Linked DNA regions of Homo sapiens: all the other regions are linked to region 1. Evidence: fine-mapped expression QTL. A gene starts in region 1. Each other region holds a variant in brackets. All regions are shown on one strand. Distances are between the middles of the regions.

Region 1 (5,644 bases):
AAATGAGATGGTGTGCAAAATGGGTTTGTATTTACATTTGTCAAAAGACCAAAATAACAGTGTCACAGGCAGGCATCCTAAACCACGTAAATTTTGAGTCGAATTTGGAAACCCAAAAGGACTGTCTTGTTGCAACATAAAAATGCAGTTTAGAGTAAGAAGATCAGTATGTAACAGAGGGGCCAAAGTGAGGAGTACATATAATTAAAAATAAAGTCAAAGATGGAGAATACTTGACAAGTTTACATTTCCTAACACAGCTATTAAAAACAATTACATATTCTTAAGCCAAGAGTAATATAGTAAAATGACACTTGAAGAAAATTATCCTAGCAGCGGTGTGGAGGATGAAGAAGTTATCGGACATGACAGTTTTGAAAGCTTTTATATTAATACCAATAAGATTGTAAAATAAGGTGGTGGTTAAGGATATGAAAAGGAGTAAATCTGGTAGACAGTGCAGAGTCAACTAGACTTCGTGAAACGCTGAATTAGGGAAGTGCAAGAAGATTTGAAAATGACTCTAAGCATCTGGTCACAAGTGGCCTACAGCATAACCACACCTGCACAGCACTAACAGTTCTTACACAGGCTTTTCCAGGCTGCATCTGAACCCGTTTATTTAGTTCTACATACCAGACCTGCCGTGAGACAGCACTCCACTTTAGATGGAAGCAGAAAACTACCACCACCATTCTAGCAGGAAAATATAACCAAAGATTCCAGCTTTGTTTCTTGATGAAAGAGGCCCACTCTTCTAACCCTGAGGAACTTCCTATCTGCACTACTGGGGAACAGGGAAATTTCTTCTCTCTATCCCCAAAAACCAAGATTCTCCACACACTTGAAGACAAAGCTCAGCTCTATATGAATATTTTAAGTCACATGTACATAAAACACAGATGACAAAAGGGGTCGTTCTAAACTGGAGCTAGGCCAAGTGGATTACACTAAAAAATTAAAATGGCTAAAAAGCAATCTTCTGGGGTTAATGTATCACAAAACGTCAAAAAATAAATTCTGTTCCAGAATGCACTGCTACATAATGATTCTGCAGTTTTGCTGAAGCTTTATTTTCCGCAGTTTTAAAAACACTGTTGGAAAGCAGACATCAAAGGGTTTTCCTTGTCTAAAAAGCATACCATTACGGAATTTCCAGTTTTATCAAGAAGAACAGTTTACAAAATATATTTAATAAAGGTCTGGCTGCCTACAGTTCCTTATAAGGAAGACCATGTATAAATTTCATTCTTTAAAAAAGAACTCAATTTATGGGAGTCTATCTATGAGTAAACGAAGCTCCAAGGCTTGGTTTAAACATTTCCACTCTCAAAAAGGACTGATGAGTCCAATCTCCTTGAGAAACATGTCTACTTCATCTAGCTTTTAAGGAGATTCTAAAACGTTATGTATACATACACTTTTCTCAAACAAGCACTGTTGTAAATTTTTCACATTGCCTTACTATATTAAAAAAAAGGCTACCTTACAGATTAAAATATTATCTAGGAGGATTACCAAACTACGACCTCCTGATAAATGAGACAGCTCTCCAAGCCACTGTGACTCTAACCTTTCCATTCTAAATCTTTCGGGCGCGGAGGATGAATTTTTCTATCTTTTTGTTGGAATTAAGATCCTGCATTATCAGGAGATACAGAGTCAGGCTTAAAGCCACAGACTCCAGCAGCTCCTCGCTGCCCTAGCACAGCGGGCAGGGGGAGCCAAGGCGCAGCATCGCCTCCACGCTCCGAGACCAACACCAAGTCTCTTCACCTCCACGCTCCGAGACCAACACCAAGTCTCTTCGCCTCCACGCCGAGAGCAGCTGCGAAACGGACGCTCTGGGGTTTCAGCCGCACCACCACTTTCCTCCACCGCAGACCGAAGGGCCGCCCTAGGAGGAGCCTTCTAGTCCAGTCACCTCAGGCCCGTTTGCTTGGGGTGGAGAGTGCGGTGGATTCCTAAGCCTTTCCCCTAACGGGTGATTTCCTACACCAGACGCAGGACCCACGGTCCCACGGGTCCCAGGGGGAACTAAACCCCAAGGCTGCAAAGGGGCCACGGGTGGGGCCCACCAACATCTCACAGCCTCCTGAGGAGGCGTGCGCCCTGGACAGGAGGTCCCTGCCCCCGCGTCTGGCCCCTGGTATCTTCCCCTAGGGCTCCCGGCCGCCGCTCACCGTGAAGGGGACATCCCCGACGCTGCCCACGGAGTAGCAGTTGTCTCCAGGGTTGACAGCTCCGGTGAGGACCTGATGCAGATGCATCTCCGGAGCCCGGGCTGGACAGAATGCGCGGGAGGTGCGACAAGCTCCGCGCCTGACCCTCCTCGGGCTGCGAGAGCCGTTTCCCTCTGTGCCTCCCTCGGAAACCCGCCCCGCGGAGGCTCTGGCTTAACTCCTCGCCCCCCTTTCGCCTTCCCTCCGCCTCGTCCCTGCCATGGGAGCTCCTCGACCGCCGCCGCCGCCCGGGTCGCCGCTCAGCTGCGGAAATGCCCGGATGTTCCCACTGCCTGCTGCACCGGCGCACAAATGCGGGAGGGCAAGGGTGCTTGTGAGGCGGGGGAGGGCACCGGGGGGAACGCGCGAGCCGGGAGCGTGCAGCAAGGGAGCGGGCCAGCGCGCGCGCCCACCGCGGGGGAGCGAGGTAGAGCCCTCCCCCCGCGGCAAAGCTCTCAGCTCAGTCTTTCTTCCCCCCATCACCCGCGTTTGCGCGTGCGCGCGCCGTGGTTTCCAGGGCAATTGCGCGCGCCACGCCGACCCGCCGTCCCGTGATTGCGCGCGCAGACGTGCGGGAGTTCCCTTGGAGCCTCCCGGGCTGTAGCCGCTGCGGACTGGGGCGGAGGTGGGGGCGGGGGCGAGTGGGGTGCAGGTCGCTCGGGGCCACGCAGCAGTCGGACGCCGGGGACGCGCCACGAGCCGGTTTTGCTGTGTTGAACGTATTCCAGAATACAGTGTGCAATGGTCAGTGCCGTTGACCTCAGAAGGACACCCGTCACCGGGAATTTCCACCTGGAGATATCTTAGATATCTTCAGTCTTTTCGAAAGTGCAGTACATAAGATATTTTATTTTACATAAACAATGTAGGCATCTTGCAACTATTTAGAGAAGCCATACTCCCCTGAAAGCTAATTATTTTGCTCCCACCTTTTGTCACGGTTATTCTAGACAGCAAAAAGCCGCCTTAGAGACGGGTGACTCCTTTCGACTTTTTTTCATGAGTAATTTCATGAATTAGCAGAATCGCCTGATTTTCCAAACTATCTGCTAAACTTTGAATGGTTGATAACAAGGATCATCAGCTCCCTGCCACAGGCCAATTCATGGCAAATGTTCTAACCCATACTATGCTTAAATCACAGGGTAAGGAAGTAGGGGACACCAAGACATAACTATCTGTAAAACCAGGCAGAACGCCAAAGGTGGTGTGATTGAGATATAAAAGTCTTTATGCACCACAGAAGAGGAAGAAGAATGTTGACTAAGGGCGTGGATAAGGCATTATGGAGACATAACCTGACATAAACGCTGAGTTTAATTTTGACAGGCTGAGATAGACAAGAAATGCTGCAAATACAGTACAGAAAATAGAGGGGGTGTTGAAGGTACAAAGATTAATGTTTGAGGCAGATGATTTATAGGGTAGGGAAAGTAAATAATACTTAGCAAGAGATCAAGGTATCCAAGTGGTCTAACTCTTGGCCTACCAAAACATATTATGGAGAGTCTTGAATGCTCCAAGAAGCCCAGATTTCACTCTGCATGCAGTGGGGGTATATCAGATGTTTCTGAGCAAAAATTTATATAATCAGAGCTGCTTTGGGAAGATGACTTTGTAGCATTTTGAAGCATAAAGGGAAGGGTGGGGAAGATTGGAGGCAAAGATCTGTCAGTCGTTGGTAATCTTTTCAGTAGAAAGTTGCAGGAGGAATGAAAAATAATACCTAATGACCTGCGGCATTCTCTCTCTTTCTCTCTCTCCCCCCTCCCTCCCCTTCCCTCCCCCCCCCTTCCTCCCTTCCCCCGCGCCATATCCAAGGGTTCCTTTTTGTTACTACTAGATTCTAGATGAGTCTCTTAATCTTTGACCTTCACTGCATTAGAAACCAAGTCAAAACTATCATCAAACAACAAATTGTACTCAGGTTTCCAAGAGTGTTACTAATTCACATTATTTAAACCATTTCACATTTGGCTCTTGTTTTACAGCATTCCATGAAGTTTTGGCCCATTCACACAGTTGTGAAGTTGTGAGCCTCTTTCTTCCTCTCGGTATCAAACTCAAAATCTGAAGCCTGTATCCACCTGTTCTCTTCCCTCATGAATCCTTTAAATGGCTTCTTGATAGCTGTATCTTAAGGTTGCAAATGACTAATTAAGTCTCCTGGAATTACAGCTGAGCCTTTTATTGTCCAATCTGATCAGTCAAAACTCACTCCAGACTAATATGGCAAGTTTCCTTGGTAGCCCACCAGGGCAGCTAGACCACACTTTTGACTGTCCACAATTTCATCTCTTCCTTGTTCATGCAAATTTTTTCATGGACCTAAAAACAAATTGGAAATTCTTTCTTCTAATTTTGGAAAGGGCTTTCTTTTAAAAATTAGAAAAAGTAGCAGTTTTGTATCATTAACAAAATATGCTAATCGAATTGTAAGATATAATTTATCATGTCCACAACTCTTTTTTTTTTCTTTTTGCTTTGATTTGAGATCCCAACACAACTCTTAATAGTACCTTTGGGGTTGGGTTTAATGGCCCATTGAATGTGTGCCATTAAATGTGGGACTTAGTTTCCCAGCAGTATCACCTACCGATGTGTACTAGTTATCAATTACTGTGCAATAAATTACCCCAAAATTTATCAGCCAAAAATAACAGTAGAGATTCATTACCTCACAGTTTCTGTGAATCAATAATTTAGTAGTAGCTTAGCAGGAAAGTTCTGGTTCAGAGTCTTTCATGAGATGGCAATCAAAATGTCAGCTACATGCTAAATAAAAGAAGCTGGACACAAAAGACCACATAATTCGTTTGTATGAAATCATTTGTATGAAATTTTCTGAAAAGACAAATCTACAGTCACAGAAAATAGGTTAGTGGTTGCCTGGGGCTGAAGGTGGAACTGAGAGTGACTGCTAATGGATATGAGGTTTCTTTTTGGCATGAGATAAACATTCTAAAATTAGATTGTGGTCATGGTTGGGCAGTTCTGTAAAATTACTAGAAATCATTGAATTGTATACTTGAAATTAGTGAATTGTATGGTAATTAAATTATACTTTCAATAAAGCTATCTAAAAAAGAAATAGCCAGGGATACAGTCATCTGAAGTCTTGACTGAAGTTAAAGGCCCTGCTTCCAAGATGGCAGGCTCTCATGGCTAGCAAGTTGAGCCTAATAGATAGATGGAGGCCTCAGTTCCTATGTGTTCCTCTCCATAGTGCTGTGTGAGTGTCCTCAAGACACGGCGGCTGACTGCTCCAGCAGCAAGTGATCCAAGAGAGAGACCAAGGTAGAAACTGCAATGTCTTTTATAAACTAGCCTTAGAAGTCACACGCCATCATTTCCACCATATTTTATTGGGTGCACAGGCCAGCTATAACTTAGTGTGGGAGACTATTTCCCAAGAAAGTGAG
Region 2 (5,644 bases), 490 kb after region 1:
GAGCCTTTGATGGGAATCCCACCTGCACCTGTTCCAGTCCCCAAGGCAAGGCCTGGTGGTGCGCACGTGTTCGCGTAGCAATCAGATGCACTGTGAGACTCGGGTTATTTAGCTCCAGTGGCGCGATCTTGGTTCACTGCAAGCTCCGCCTCCCAGGTTCACACCGTTCTCCTGCCTCAGCCTCCCGAGTAGCTGGGACTACAGGCGCCCGCCACCATACCTGGCTAATTTTTTTGGATTGTTTAGTGGAAACGGGGTTTCACCGTGTTAGCCGGGATGGTCTCGATCTCCTGACCTCGTGATCCGCCCGCCTCTGCCTCCCAAAGTGCTGGGATTATAGGCGTGAGCCACCGCGCCCGGCCATCTAATATTTATATTAAACTTTCTCAGTTCATATTACTCCGTGGCTTCTTTCTCCTGATTGGATCCAGACTGATGCAGAATGGATACTAGCAGTGGTATTTCTGGGGGTTCAGGGGTCTGGAGCATGTTGAAATAGCCCTCCCAGGGTGAAAGATGAGTTGCTGCATCTTGCATCACTACAAAAGAGGCACGGCACTTGGCAGCTGTCTTAGTCTGTCCAGGCGGCTATAGCAGAATGCCATAGACTGGGTGACTTATAAATAAAGGCATTTATTTCTCACAGTTTTGTTGGCTAAAAAGTCCAAGGTTGAGGCCCTGGCAGGTTCTGTGTCTTGTAAGGACCTGCTTCCTGGTTCATAGACAACAGGCTTCTTGCTGTGTCCTCACATTGCAGTAGGTGTGGAGTAGCTTTCCGGGGTCTCTTTTATAAGGACAATAATCTCATTCGTGAGGGCTCCACCTTTGTGATCTAATACCTCCCAAAGGCCCCATCTCTGAATACCATCACACTGGGGGTTAGGATTTCAACATATGAATTTTGGGGGACACAGCCTGGAACAGTAAGCCATTTTGGACTTTGAAGGCAACATATACTGTGTTTGTGCTATTTCAACCCAATTGACAGGCTGGTGGATTGAGGAGCAGAATAAGAGAAGACTCTGCAGAAGGTTCAGGCTGCAGTAAAGCTGCCCTACCACTTGGGTCTTGTGATCCAACAGATCCAGTGGGACTTTGTCCAACAGGGATGCTGTATGGAGCCTCTGGCAAGCACTGACAGGAGAGAGTACAGACCTCTAGAATTCTAAAGTAAATCTAGAACCTCTTCTGAAGATAACTACTCTCCTTCTGAGAAGCAGGTTCTGCCTTGCTACTAGGCCTTGATAGAGGCAGAATGCCTGACCATGAAGCTTGAGCTCCCATCATGAACTGGATGTCATCTGACCTACGTAGCCATAAAATTGGATGTATACAGCAGCCACCTATCATCAAATGGAAATGGTGTATTAGAAACAGCCCAGGCAGGTTCAGAAGGTATAAGTAAATTGTATGAGCAGGCGGCTCAGACTCTTCCAACATCAACTCCTGTTGCTTTGCCTCCTCTCCCTCATTCTACAACTATGGCTTCTTGGGATGCTGCCTATGTCCAGTTGACTGAGGGAGAAAAACCTCCAGCCTGGATTATAGATGGGTCTGTATGATGTGCTGGTACCACATGAAAGAGAACAGCTGCAGTATTCACTCACACTCACTCAGGGGTGACTGTGAAGGGCAGTGGTGAAGGAGAATCCTTCCAGTGAGCAGAAACTCAAGGCTGTCCACTATGTCTGGAGTGAGAGATGGCCAGAATACAGACCTAAATTGATTCATGGACAGTCGCTGATGGTTTAGCTGGATGGTCAGGGCCTTAAAAAGAACAGGACTGGAAGATTGGTGACAAGAAAATCTTGGAAAGAGATATGTGGCTGAATCCCTCCGAATGGGCAGACTGAAGATATCTGCATCTCACCTGAATGCCCACCAAAGGGCATCCACTGCAGAGAAGACCCTGAATCAGATGGACAGAATTACATGCTCTGTGGCTGTCAGCCAGCCTCTCTATGCAGCTGCTGTGGTGTCTGCTCAACGGGCCGATGAACAAAGAGCTCTTGGCAGCAGGGACAGAGGATATGTATGGGTCCAACAACATGGAATTCTCCCTCCAAAGGCTGAGCTGGCTGGTGCTTCTGCTGAGTGCCTAATCTGCCAAAGCAAATGATTTCTTACAGTGAACTAAATAAGTGTTGTTAGAATATAAATTTCTGTACATCAAATTCCCATTTGAACTGGTTTTGACGTCTTACTGGTTTCCTTATTAATCAGTGAGTTAAAAGCTTGGATACATGTTCATGTTTTATTTGCAAGACAGTCATGATTTTACCTTTTTGTACATTAAACTTTAGCAGCAAGAACATTGTTTTCTCTTAGATTTGCAGTAGCTTTGGGGTAAATGATAAATCCTCTGGAACTGCCATTGGTAACTCAACAATGATGAAAAGAACTAAACAACAAATGAATAAATTAACCTCAACATAGAATTTCCAGTCCACACAATATGAGGCAGTTTGTAATAAGACTCGGTGAAAATCCTGTCTCTGCAACTTGGAAGCTGTGCAGCTATGGGCAAGTTATTCAACTCTCCTAACCTCAATCTCCCCATCTAAAAATGGGGCATCACGGGGCTGTCACAAGGATTACATGAATCGGTATATACAAAGTGCTTAGCACAGTACCTGGCACACAGTAAAAGGTTGTCACTCCACAGAAACTTTTATTTGTAAATGGTAAATCCTCTGGCAACGGTGACTATGCTCACTTGCCCCATTATCAGCCAAAACCAAAATGTGACAATATTGGTCTTACCTATGTGGTTTCTGTTTTATTGAGAATAGCTAGTGACTGCTTATTATTTTTTCCACGTTTTAAGTAACAGCTTTATTGAGATGTAATTCATATACCAAAAAATTCACCCTCTTACAGTCCAGTGGTTTTTAGTCTATTCACAGAATTGTGCAATCACCACCATCTAATTCAGTTCCCCCCGGAGAAACTCAGTGCCCACTAACCGTCACTCCTCACCCTAGCCCTAAGTGACCACCAATCTGCTTTTTGTCTTTATGAGTTTGCTTA[T/C]TAGGACCTTTCATATACATGGAATCCTACAACATGTGGCTCTTTGTCTCTGGTTTCTTTCCCCTGGCACAATATTTTCAAGGTTCATCCATGTTGCAGCATGTGTCCACGCTTTCTTTCTTTGTATTCCATTCTGTGGATGCGCCATATTTTGTTCATCGATTCATCCACTGTGGAACATTGGGGCTGTTTCAGCTTTGGGCTATTATGAGTAATGCTGCTATGAACATTTGCATTCAAATTTCTGTGTGGACATATGTTTTAATTTCCCTTGGGGAGGCTGCCAATTACCGTGGAAAACACACAGGTTGGAAACAGTGACCTCTGCTTCATGGTTCCTGGTTTCTGACAAAGTTAATCTTTCACCATTGGTGTGCTGGTTAGATAACCTTGGGTTCAAAGACAGACATTTCCTGTTGTCACAGTCTTTACATAAACGCTCATACCATACTTACGATTAGTTGTTTATGTGGGTTAAATTAACCATGGAATCACTCCTGATCCCATCTCCTTACTAGAGGGTCTGCATCTTTTTTTCTGGTCCTATTTTTAAAAATAATGATCTTTAATTGACACATAATTGTATGTATTTATGGGGTACAGTGTGTTATTTTGATACATGTATACAATGTGTAATGATCAGGGTAATTAGCATATTAATCCCTTAAATGTCTATCATTTGTGTTGGGAATGTGAAAGTTGTTAGAATTCAAATAGAGTCACTAGTGTTTTAAAAAAACAAACCATGACAAATAGAGCTGGGGAGGCCATGAAGAGGGGATTCTCATGCTTGTATGCCTAATACCAAAAATGATCACAAAAGATTCTGCAAAAATTACAACCTTGCACATAGGCTGCTGCAACCTCACACAAAAATTACTTCTGCAAAGACATCTGCCTAGCAACTGCCTGTCCAACCTCGGACTGGTGTGACCTTTGTTATTGATATTTGTAGCCAAGGATAATTATTTCAAAACCATTATGTAATCCTCCTCATTTTTTCCTTTAAAAACCTTTGTTTTTCTTTTTTTTTTTCTTTGTTTTTTTGAGTCAGAGTCTCGCTCTGTCGCCCAGGCTGGAGTGCAGTGGTGCCATCTCGGCTCACTGCAAGCTCTACCTCCTGGGTTCATGCCATTCTCCTGCCCCAGCCTCCCGAGCAGCTGGGACTACAGGCACCTGCCACCACGCCCAGCTAATATATATATATATTTTTTTTTAGTACAGACAGGGTTTCACCGTGTTAGCCAGGATGGTCTCGATCTCCTGACCTCGTGATCCACCCGCCTCGGCCTCCCAAAGTGCTGGGATTACAGGCGTGAGCCACCGCGCCCAGTCACCTTTGTTTTTCTTTACCTCCTGGAATATGCACACAGTTTACTACAGCACACATATTCCTGTTGCAATGCCCTACTTTTGATTAAATATCTTTAGCGAGCCTGTCTTTGTTATTTAGGTTGACAGGAACATTCAAAATTCTCTCTTCTAGCTACTTGAAAATACACAGTAAATTATTGTTAGCGATAGTCACCCTACAGTGCCGCCAAACACTAGACTCCTATCTTGCTGCAAATTTGATTCCATTAACCAACTCCTCCCCACCCCCTGCTGCATCCTTTTTCTAATGACATGAACATATTCAGTCATTTCATTTCTTTCACTGGGGTTGGCCCTGTGGCAGCCCACGGGAGGCCAGAGTCCCCTGTGGAGACTGACCAACCCTGAAGGCCAGCCTGGCTCCAGCCAAGTGCTGTCTAGAAGCAGGAGTCTGTGGTATGTCTGGAAGAGTGACCCAATTCTCTCCGGTCACGGATGAGAGGGCAAGTGGTTTAGCATGGCAATCCTTACAAAGGATCCACAGAGACAAGATTCACTCGCGGCCTCCCCAGTGGGCCTCCGGCTCAGATTTCCTGGCCCACCTCAGGCCCGCCCAGTCCAGATCTCAGGGCAGGGCCCTGAAGGCGCAGTGCAGGAACCTGCCATGGGTGGGACGATTCTTCTCAGCAGGCAAGTTTGGGAAATGAAGATCTACAAATCCCCACTCAATCAGCTCTTCCAGGCTTGGGAATGGCCTGGGCCTCAGCCCCAGTCTTCTACCCCACCCACTGTGCCTTCCCCAGGCTTCCAGGCGTCCTCTTTTGAAAGGATTTTCAGGTCACAGGCCTCAGCTGGTCCCTAGCCCTTCCGACTGCCTCTCTGGGACTTCCTCCACCGACCGGGGCTGTCCCAAAGCCTCCTCTGAAGGCTTTCCCTAGGGTGGCTCTCCTCAATCATCCTGTCACCTCTTTCTTTGCCAAGCTCTTCCAAGGCCCTTAGTGGTTTCTGGGAGGTCTCACACAGAGGGGCTGGAAAAGGGCTCATTAGCCCAGATCAGCTGTTCTCAAAGCAAGATCCAGGGCCCCCGAGGGTCCCTGAGACCCTTTCAGGGGGTCCTCACGGTCAAAACTATTTTCATAATAATATTGACACTTTTTTTTTTTGTATGGGTGATTTTTTTATTTTCATCCTCTCAGGAATTTTCCAGAGACTACTGGCATGGGAGAAAGATCACCTTGATGGCTAATGGAACGTGTGCATCTGTATTCTTGTGTTTTATAACTTTTTCTCAGTCTTAATT
Region 3 (5,319 bases), 110 kb before region 1:
TTTAAAGTACCTTGTGATGGCTGAAAAAATATTTCTGTTTCCTTTTTCTCCATATCTTCCTTATGTGGTTTATATCCTATAATGAAGTCTTCTTGAAACACATGAAGCAACTGTGTATTTGAGCCACACTACAAATACAAAAAAAAATGAAGAGGTTTTATCTTTGAAATTCCCTGTCTCCCATCTCCCATCTGTCACCTCCCCAATGCTAATGCAGAAGAAATATATCTAACAATTTCTATTCTTTACCACTACTAATTAGAAAGAAAAAAGCAACAGAAGAGAATCATTAAAACTATCCTGGTCAGAGAAAAATTACTTTCAAAAATGTCACAGCCAATAGCAGAATAGAAGAGCTCTAGTACAAACAAATCAACAGGTTTGCTTCTCAGGAAAAAAAAAAAAAAAAAGATGCTAAAAAACCCAAATTCCAAATTTAAAGAACAGTTAAGCAACCTTCACCACTTTGAGCCTGAAAGCATCAGATTCACAACTGACTAGGGAGGGCTGCACTATGTAAGACACACTAGACTACTACACAACTTGTAATTTTTTCAATTCCACTGGAGAACCAAAAAACAAAACAAAACCCAGAAAGCTCCTCGAAGTATCCCAATAGCTCTGTCTAGTGGGAATTATGAGGGATCCTATAACAGCCAGCAGGATGATACATCTCTAGAGAACTAAACTTACACATAAGTAACTAGAACCCCTCGAAGGATGGATGAAACATCACTGTCAACTGCTATGCTCCATGACCATGTTTTAAGACTATCACGAATGGCTACTTAGAACCTTAACAGGAACTGAAGTTCAAGGAAAGGCTAGATCCAAACAAAAGCTTATTTTGGAAGTGTATTAAGACAATCAATCAGATGGCTCCCCCAGAGATTTCAAGAAAAGGAAGCAGCTATGATTATCTTGGCATTGGATGAGGAGTCTATAATCTTATAGAATAAAGGAAAACCTGCCTCTTTACATAATAGAAAGAAATAAAAGGATTATAATATTAGGTTGGGCCATACAATTTTATGAAAGTTATAGGGTATTTTGTGTTTCTCTAGGTAGAAACATTAAAAATCTCTTCACATTCATTGTCTAGGAGGTCATTTCCCCAAGGGACAAACAATAGATGAAAGTAAAGAGAAGGGTGATGTCTTCACAGATATAGAAATCATACAACACATTGGGAACAAACCTAGAAAGAATTTTAAACTTTGTCATTCATTATTGCTTACAGTTTACCAGCCCCTGTGTTAAAAATAGGCACAAGGAGCAGGGGAAAAAGTGTTGAGCAAATATGAAGTAAAAAAACTGCTTTGTGAGAGCAGACTGTGTTAATATCCCATGGTAATGAGTGCAAAGGAGGCTAAAGTAGGGGATGAATTTAACATCCAATCCATTAAAAATTAAGTTATCTATAGGAAGGAAGCCAACCCACTCTTCTACATTCCTATTGAGTAGAAAAAAGAAATCACAGGCTGAATCTGAAGAAAGGTGGGGCACTGGGGATTAAAAAGTTAAGCATTTCCCAGGAGGTATTAGCAATATGGGTCTGGCAGCCCCAGTTCTGCTATCAAGAGATGATGTATTTTATCTATATTAGCAGAAATGAGTACATTTTCCCCAATAGAAAGTGCAAGACACTAAAGAAAATTTATGATGTAACTCTATACTTGCTTTCAACTATAGTTGGCTCTTTCTTCATTTCCTTGTTTAAAACTATTGGTAGCTTCTTTACCAAACTAATCCTTTTCACATTTGGAATAAATGTTAGTTCTATCCCTTAGACCATAAACATAGTCCTAAAGAAACAAATATCCTGAGGGCTAAAATGGGTTTTACATCTCCCTCTAGGGAGAAGGGTTCTCCTTCTTTCCTAGGTAGTAGCTGGGGAGGAATACTACACAAAGGACCTGTGATTAAAAAGTATATGTCCACTTGAATCTGACTTTCATCTGCATTTTAAAGGACCTCACAAAAGTACCCAACATGGGGCCTAACAAGGCAAACACTCTGAAACTGAGGTTACCCTCTATTGAGTTGAAAAGAGTAATAATATAAAATGAGAAACCACAACCCGACCCTTCTATGCAGCTGCACTGTATTTTCTCTCAGCATTTCAAGATCAAGGTCATGGTTTCTCTAAATGAATCAAATTTCCTTTGCTACAAATACAATTCAACTGGAGAAGAATAATTCCTTTTTTAAAAAATTTTACTTAAATAGCTTTTGGGGTACAAGTGGTTTTTTTGTTACATGGATGAACTAGTAGTGAATTCTGAGATTTTAGTGCACCCATCACCCAAGTAGTGTACACTGTACCTAACATGTGGTTTTTCAAATCTCTAGTTCCATTTCCACCCTCCCTCTTCTGAGTCTCTAAAGTCCATTATATTGCTCTGCATGCCTTTGCATACTCATAGCTTAGCGCCCACTTATAAA[T/C]GAGAACATACAGTTCTTGGTTTCCCAAGGAGAAAAATAATCCCTAAATCATTAGTAGATTTTCACTATGGGAATCAACATAAGTTGTCTGCATTTAATAACAAACAAGAAAATTATTCTGAGAATGACATATATCATATACATATAAAACACCATGGGATAAAGTATACGAATATCACCAATTCACAAGCATGTTTTTACTTGGTTGGTTATTGCGTCGAGTTCAATAATGCAGCCAGGTCGAGCAGTAGACTGTTGGCTCACAATATTAAACACTTCTCCAATAAGTTTCTGTAAATAAAAAACACAAAATGTTAATGGCCAACAAATTATAATCTAATGTCAATATGATACAGCATCTTGGACATTTAAGGCCCCCTCTAAATATTCACTGATTGGCAATGGAATGTAATACATTCAAAGAAATACTTCAACTTTCCATACTCATTCTCATGTTAAGTCTAAAGTTAAGCAGAGAGAAAACTATAATGTTTACAAAAATAGCATATAACTTCAAGGTATCATATCTTCTTCATTTTTGCAACCTTAAAGCCCAAGACAGACATGGCTGAAGATCTGGCCCAATGCCTGAGTGGTCTGCAGATGTGCAATGCCATTTAAAAGTACAACCCTGCCAGACCGAAGGTAAGGGCAAGGGTTGAGAAGAAGTGGGACTCTTGTGCCTTGGGATAAGGATGTATGAACAAACAAATGAAGCCTAACTTTGGAACCCCAAAATCCCAAAACTTTCTGCTAAAAAGAACAGTCCTCCTCACCCATGTTCCAACCAGCTTTCTCTTGCATAAAAACCTTTCAGTAACTTCATCTGAAACGGTTGCCTCAGAAAGAAATGCCCATTCTCCTCAGCACCCACCTTTACCACTTTTCACTACCTCAAAAAGGCCAATAAGAGGGGTTAGAGGCTAGCTTCGCCTAGAGATATAAGTACAAGGTAGGGAGATATAAGTACAAGCATATACACTGGAGTTGTAGAAACTTTCTTATTTGTATCAGTAGGATTCCAGAGAGCATGTAAGAAAATTGATTCTAGGGTTATTAGATCAAAAGAAAAAAATATGTAGTTAGGTAGGGCTGAATTTACTGATATGGGTATGTTCACCCAAGATTCATGATTTAAAGTGTTAGCTCAGACATTTAGAAATGGTGTTAACAGGGCCAGGGTGGTGGCTCACACCTGTAATTCCAGCACTTTGACAGGCCAAGGCAGGTGGATCTCCTGAGGTTAGGAGTTAAGAGACCAGCCTGGCCAACATGGTGAAACCCCGTCTCTACTAAAAATATAAAAATTAGTGGGGAGTGATGGAGGGTGCCTGTAATCTCAGCTATTCAGGAGGCTGAGGCAGGAAAATCACCTGAACCTGGGAGGCGGAGGTTGCAGTGAGCCGAGATTGCACCACTGCACTCCAGCCTGGGTGACAGGGCGAGACTCCGTCCAAAAAGGAAAAAAAAAGAAATGGTGTTAACAGTCTGCTGGGTTTGTTCATTGAAATCTGGACTCAACTGTGGCCTATAGTTGGTGAGGTGAAAACAGTGAAATTTTTGTAGCACACAACAAAGCTTTGCTACTCAAAGTGTAGTCAATGGACCAGCAGTGATGGGAAGCTTTTTATGAATGCATACTTACTCCCTGAAACTAAGACATCTGTATTTTAATGAGACTTCCATAGGATTCATGCGTATATTAAAGTTTAAGAAGGACTGCTGTAGATCACTGGTTCTCAATCTTGGCTGCACACTGAATCACCTGGAGAGCTTTAACAATCAATGATGCTTAGGTCCCACCCACAGAGATTGAGGTGCTTCCAATGTGCAGCCAAGGTTGAGATCCCCTCACAAGAATAGTTATGTATTCCAGCTAAGGATTTGCTTTCCCTGCCCACAACTCTCTGCCAGCACTATAATTAACAGACTTTCTGAACACTACACTACAGAATTCCAGAATTCTACAGAATCTCACTCAACATCACCTCCAACCAAGGAACTCATTTTATAGTGGAAGATACTACTGGAAATTAGAATGAAGTAAAGCATTCGCCCAGGGTGCAAAATTTAAAAGAGTGCTCAAAAATTCAATAATCAAGAAAAATAATATTTTAATGCAATATTTTAAAATCAAAATTAATGTAAACAATCCATAATGAGCAAAATATCAAACATTTAAATATAGAACCCAAGAGTATCTTAATGAGCCACACTGATACCATTAATGTGCATCAAAACTGCACATATGTGTTTTGATGTATATTTTTTTTTAATGGTTAACATTCTTCTTTTCTTTTTTCAGGGTCTTGCTCTATTGGCCTCCAACTCCTGGGCTCAAGTGGTCCTCCTATCTCAGCCTCCCAAGTAACTAGGATTACAGGTGCATGCAACCATGCCTGACAAATTTTTTAATTTTTTTGTAGAGACAGGGTCTCACTATGTTGCTCAGGCTAGTCTCAAACTCTTGGCCTCAAGCAATCCTCCCACCTCAGCCTCCCAAAGCACTGGGATTACAGGCATAAACCACCACACCTGGCTGTAGTTAACATTTTTCCAGAACATCAAAGTAGTTAAAAAATGCTAAAAAATTGAAAAGTAGGTGCATTAAAACTCACATATTACTTTAAGTTTAAATTTATTTATACCAGAAATTGGACTAATTATAGTTTTATTTTTCTGGCTTTAATGGAAACAAACACATTAATAATATTTTCAAAATCTCCTTCTTTGCTTCTCTGGTTTTGACAAAGTCTCTTGTTTTTTTTTTTTTTTTTTTTTTTGAGATGGAGTTTCACTCTTGCTGCCCAGGCTGAAATGCAATGGCATGGTCTTGGCTCATTGCAACCTGCGCCTCCCGAGTTCAAGTGATTC
Region 4 (5,644 bases), 90 kb before region 1:
TCAGACAAAAGAAAGATATAAAAGGCATCCAAATTGGAAAGGAAGAAGTCAAATTATCCTTGTTGGCAGAAAGCATGATCTTACATCTGGAAACACCTAAAGACTCCACCAAAAACCATTAGAATTGATAAATTCAGTAAAGTTCCAGGATATCAATCAACATACAAATACCAGTAGCATTTCTATAGGCCAACAGCAAAAAATCTGAAAAAGAAATTTTGAAAAAGTAATCTCAGCTGGGCACAGTGGCTCACCCCTGTAATCCCAGCACTTTGGGAGGCTGAGGCGAGCAGATCACGAGGTCAGGAGATCGAGACCATCCTGGCTAACACAATGAAACCCCATCTCTACTAAAAAAAAAAAAAAAAAATTAGCCGGGCATGGTGGCACATGCCTGTAGTCCCAGCTACTCTGGAGGCTGAGGCAGAAGAATCACTTGAACCTGGGAGGCAGCGGTTGCAGTGAGCTGAGATCACACCACTGCACTCCAGCCTGGGTGACAGAGACTCCGTCTCAAAAACAAACAAGCAAACAAAAAGTAATCTCATTTACAATAGCCATACATAATATTAAGAACCTAGGAATTCATGAAAGAAGTGAAAGATCTCTATAATGAAAACTGTAAAACACTGATGAAAGAAATTGAAGAGGACAAAAAAAATGGAAAGATATTCCATGCTCATGGATTGGAAGAACTGATATTGTTAAAATGTCCACACTACCCCAAGCAATCTACAGATTCAATGCAATCCCTATAAAAACACCACTGACATTCTTTATAGAAATTTTTTAAAGATTTAAAATTCATATGGAACCACAAAAGACCCAGAATAGCCAAAGCTATCCTAAGCAAAAAGAACAAAACTGGAAAAATCATATTATCTGACTTCAAATAATACTGCAGAGTTACAGTAATCAAAACAGCATGGTACTGGCATAAAAACACACACAGAGAACAATGGAACAGAAAAGAGAACCCAGACACAAATCCACACACCTACAGTGAACTCATTTTTGACAAAGGTGCCAAGAATATACAATGGAGAAAAGACAGTCTCTTCAATAAATGGTGCCAGGAAAACTGGATATCCATATGCAGAAGAATAAAACCAGACCCCTATCATTAACTGCATACAAAAATCAAATCAAAATGGATTAAAGATTTAAATCTAAGACCTCAAACTATGAAACTACTACAAGATAACATTGGGGAAACTTTCCAGGACATTGGTCTCAGCAAACATTTCCTGAGTAATATATGACAAGGACAGGAAACCAAAGCAAAAATGCACAAATGGGATCACATCAAGTTAAAAAGCATAGGATACAATCAGCAAGGTGAAGAGACAACCCACAGAATGAGAGAAAATATCTTCAAACTACTCATCTGAAACGGGATTAATAACCAGAATATATAAGAAGCTCAAACAACTCTACAGGAAAAAATCTAGTAATCTGATCAAAAAATGGGCAAAACATTTGAACAGATATTTCTTAAAAGAAGACATACAAATGGCAAACAGACATATGAAAAGGTGCCCAATATCACAGATCATCAGAGAAATGCAAATCAAAACTACAATAAGATATCATCTCACCCCAGTTAAAATGGCTTATATCCAAAAGACAGGCAATAACAAATGTTGGCATAGATGTGGAGAAAAGGGAACCCTCATATGCTATTGGTGGGAATGTAAATTAGTACAACCATGATAGAGAACAGTATGGAGGTTGCTCACAAAGCTAAAATAGACCTACCATACAATCCAGCAATTCCACTGCTGGGCACATACCCAAAAGAACGAAAATTGGTATACTGAAGAGGTATCTGCACTCCCATGTTTGTTGCAGCTCTGTTCAAAACAACCAAGATTTGGAGGCAACCTAAGTATCCATCAACAGATGAATGGATGAAGAAAAAAAAAATGTGGTACTTACATACGACAGAGTACTACTTGGCCAAAAAAAAAAATGAGATTCCGTCATTTTGCAGCAACAAGGATGGAACTGGAGGTCGTTATTTTAAGTGAAATAAGCCAGGCACAGAAATACAAGCGTTGCATGTCCTCACTTATTTATGGGAGCTAAAAATCAAAACAACTGGACCCATAGAGATAGAGTAGAAGGGTGATTACCAGAGGCTAGGAGGGGTCGTAAGGGATTGGCAGGGAGGTAGGGATGGTTAATGTGTACAAAAAAATAGTTAGAATTAATAAGACCTAGTATTTGATAGCACAACAGGGTGACTATAGTCAATAATTTAATTGCTCATTTAAAAATAACTAGAAGAGTGTAATTAGATCATTTGTAACACAAAGGATAAATGTATGCGGTGATAGATACCCCATTTTCCATTATTTGATTACTAAGAATTGCATGCCTATATCAAAACATTTCATGTACCCCACAAATATATACATCTACTATGTACCCACAAAAATTTTAAAAAAATTTTTTAAACCTGCAACTAACATTATATGTAATGATCAAAGACTGAATGCTTTTCCTCCAAAAATGGGAAGAAGGCAAGAACATCCAATCTCACTTCTTATTCAACATGGAGTTGGAAGTTTTAGTCACTGCAACAAAATAAGAAAAATAAAAGCCATACAGATTAGAAAGGAAGAGATAAAATTGTTCCCATTTATAATGAGATGATTATCTACATGGAAAAGTCCAAGAAATCTACCAAAAACACTCCTACACCTAATATATGCATTCAGCAATGTTACAGGATATAAGATAAACATACAAAATTCAATTGTATTTGTATATTCAATTGTATTTGTATATTCTGGCCATAACTACATGGACACCAACATTAAAAAGACAGCACCCTTTACAGTCAGTAGAATAAATGAAATACTTATGTATAAACCTAACAAAACATTCATAGGACATGCATGCTGAAGACCACAGGAGAGGGAGATTGGGGACACTATTGAAAGTTGTTTACTGTATATATTTAGAGATGGGGGGGTCTCACTATGTTGCCCAGGCTGGTCTTGAACTCATGGGGTCAAGCAATCTTCCCATCTCATTCCCAAAGTGCTTGGATTACAGGTGTGAGTCACCGTGCCTGGCTACATTATATTTTGAGTACTATATTATTATTTGAAGGTAGACTATGAGAGGTTAAAGATGCATATTATAAAACCTTGAGGAACCACCAAAAACAAAACACTGAGTATAATGGAGAACAAATAGAACCATAAGAAAACACAAAATCCCCCAAATCATGGAGAATGACATCAATAGCAAAAAACTAAAAACAGGCAAAAATTCCCATTTTCAAAAAGGAAAAGAACATACTTCTGCAGGGCAGACCAAGGAGCTTAATGTCTACCTAGTACAATGTTTTGGTCACCAAGTGATGTCAAGGTGTGCACATTACACCTATCATATATTAAAACAAA[T/A]CACCTCATGTAACTTTGACTTTCTTCGTTGACTGCAGAAGATAGAAAGACTGTATTTTATTTCAGCAAAGTATATGGCAAGCTGTCTCACAGAAATCCTTGAAACAAGCTGGAAAACATTCCAAAAAATGAAAATGGAGAAAGATTTCAAATGTATACTGCTAGGCTCTTTCTTCAGACCTGCCTATTTATCATATTAATAACTGACTCAGATGGTGCAGGTATAACACTCTTCAAACAGGCTGGTGACATAGTCATAAAGCAAAAACAAATACATTAAATAACATAATCCAGATTCAAAAAGATACTGAGAGATTGGACTGTTTAGTTGTGCTTAGCAAGATGAAATGTAATAGGAAAAATAGGTCTACATTTGGACCCCAAATCCAAATGTACAAATACAGAATGGAGAAGACAAGGTTTAGCAGAGAGCAGGGAGGGGGAAAGACTTCGGGATATTGACAGTCAGCTCATGATGAGTCAATTACATACGAAGAATGTGGAGTGACTGTCAAAACATAAATGTATCTAATGAGAGAGGTCACAATATTGCTATGTTTTAGTCATCCTACAAGGCTCAGAGTACAGACAAACTGAAAACTGCTCAGAAGAGTAACCAGGGTCAAATGTAAAACAGATAAAGAAACTTGATAGGCACAGGGGGAGCAGATTTGGCCTGAGGTAGTAAGGTTCACAGGTTACAAGAAAGCTGTCTTTTAATATCTTGAGGTACTCTCATACGCAAGAAATATTAGATTTATTCTAAGTAGAACTAGCACTAGCAAGTAGAATGTACACAAAACAAATAGCGTTTCAATATGATTGTGTGAGCTATTCAAGGATAGAATGAGCTGCATTTAGAGTTGAGTCTCCCTCATCGATGGCCAGATGACAAATTGGCAGGAATGAAGCAGAGGGGAATAAAGCATCAGATGGCTGGTGAGACCAGGTGACCTTTAAAATATCTTCCAATTCTAGTTCTATGATTCTATTTTTCTAGACTTTCTCTATGTCAAACCTTAAGCTCCAATCCAAATGGTTTTCTCACTGTTTCTGGAACAAGCTTTACACATGTACTTTCCTGTATCTATACTTACTTCCAGGCAATTTTCTCACTCAGGCAAAGACAAAGAATTTATCTTTCTAAATCTTATCCACTCATCAAGAATGAACCCAAATATTGTCCTTAATAAAGAATTCTATGCCTACCTTAATCTGATCTCTCTCTCTCCTCTGAATAATGAAACACTTCTAGGGCCATCCTTTTGGCAATTAATTACATACCACCCTTAGACTCCTCTTCTTATGTCTTAAACTGCTACTTAACTTTTTATTAATAAGCTCTCTCTTCAGCTAAATTAAAAGCTCCTTAAAGGTAGGTCTGAAACTTATATTTTGTATTCCCTCTACATCTAGGAGAACATAGTAGATGCTCAAAAATAGTCATTGGTTTTCAATACTGGAAACATTTTTATTAGAATAGTTGTTTTTATAGGTAAATGGAAAATCTACTGTTCAACTCTAGATACTAACATATATGACTTCCAGCTCAGATACAGAACTATCAGAATGAGATGCTGCCACCCACTGATAACAAATTCTAACCAGAGAATTTTTTAAAATGGTGAATCAAGCTTGAAAAAGTTCCAATTTTCCAACCTAAACATACAGCTTGGTAAAGATGCCTTAAAACTTCTTTTAAGCAAAGTAAGACTAACAGAACCAAACTAGAGAGTAAAATATGTTACAAACAAATAATATTTTAGAAAAAAATCCTTTTTATTTCTTTTCATGTAAAATGTATTAATGTGTGGTATGTACACTAAAATTTTGATTCATGTACCTTGGAACACAGCTTAGGAAAAAATAAATGTGTCATATATATGTCATATGCAGCCCAGAACATATACTTACTCCCTAAACAGCAACTAACAAACACAGGTCCTAGACAAAGTCAAAAGAGAATTCTTTATCTCCTTAGATAAATTAATAAAGATTATTAAATACTTACTGAAGATTCTGGGTCTGACAATTCATCTAATAATTTCCTTGCATCCACTACAGCTTGATAGAGTCTCAGATTTTTGCCATCAGAAGCAACAAAGCAAGCACTTGCAGAATTGCAGTATGTGCCTGAGAAAGGAAAACAAGGCCTCTGGGTTCTAAACATGTAGTGTATTTTTCTTATTGGCTAAAGGATAAGAAACAAGTATTCACATTTTTTTTAG

What was found.
Region 2: its variant is fine-mapped to the expression of DMXL2 in whole blood (GTEx, PIP 0.97).
Region 3: its variant is fine-mapped to the expression of DMXL2 in whole blood (TOPMed, PIP above 0.99).
Region 4: its variant is fine-mapped to the expression of DMXL2 in whole blood (TOPMed, PIP above 0.99).

What each region holds. Positions count from the first base shown.
Region 1 is chr15:51,620,276-51,625,919 of GRCh38, forward strand. It overlaps DMXL2 (Dmx like 2), which reads right to left and starts at 2,496. Exons shown (of 44, transcript NM_001378457.1): 1 at 2,184-2,496. The coding sequence starts at 2,270. It overlaps LOC105370816 (a long non-coding RNA gene), which reads right to left. Exons shown (of 5, transcript XR_932236.3): 4 at 4,900-5,011; 5 at 4,409-4,550. RefSeq lists an enhancer at 1,634-2,043 and a silencer at 2,414-2,633.
Region 2 is chr15:52,112,865-52,118,508 of GRCh38, forward strand. It overlaps GNB5 (G protein subunit beta 5), which reads right to left. Exons shown (of 13, transcript NM_016194.4): 13 at 2,236-5,644. Among named protein-coding and RNA genes, the nearest start is that of BCL2L10, 2.9 kb to the left of the region's middle. The variant T/C (reference allele first, on the strand shown) is at 3,031.
Region 3 is chr15:51,514,432-51,519,750 of GRCh38, forward strand. DMXL2 (Dmx like 2) reads right to left here. Exons shown (of 44, transcript NM_001378457.1): 14 at 2,647-2,736; 15 at 11-128. Among named protein-coding and RNA genes, the nearest start is that of DMXL2, 110 kb to the right of the region's middle. The variant T/C (reference allele first, on the strand shown) is at 2,446.
Region 4 is chr15:51,530,236-51,535,879 of GRCh38, forward strand. DMXL2 (Dmx like 2) reads right to left here. Exons shown (of 44, transcript NM_001378457.1): 13 at 5,428-5,549. Among named protein-coding and RNA genes, the nearest start is that of DMXL2, 90 kb to the right of the region's middle. The variant T/A (reference allele first, on the strand shown) is at 3,417.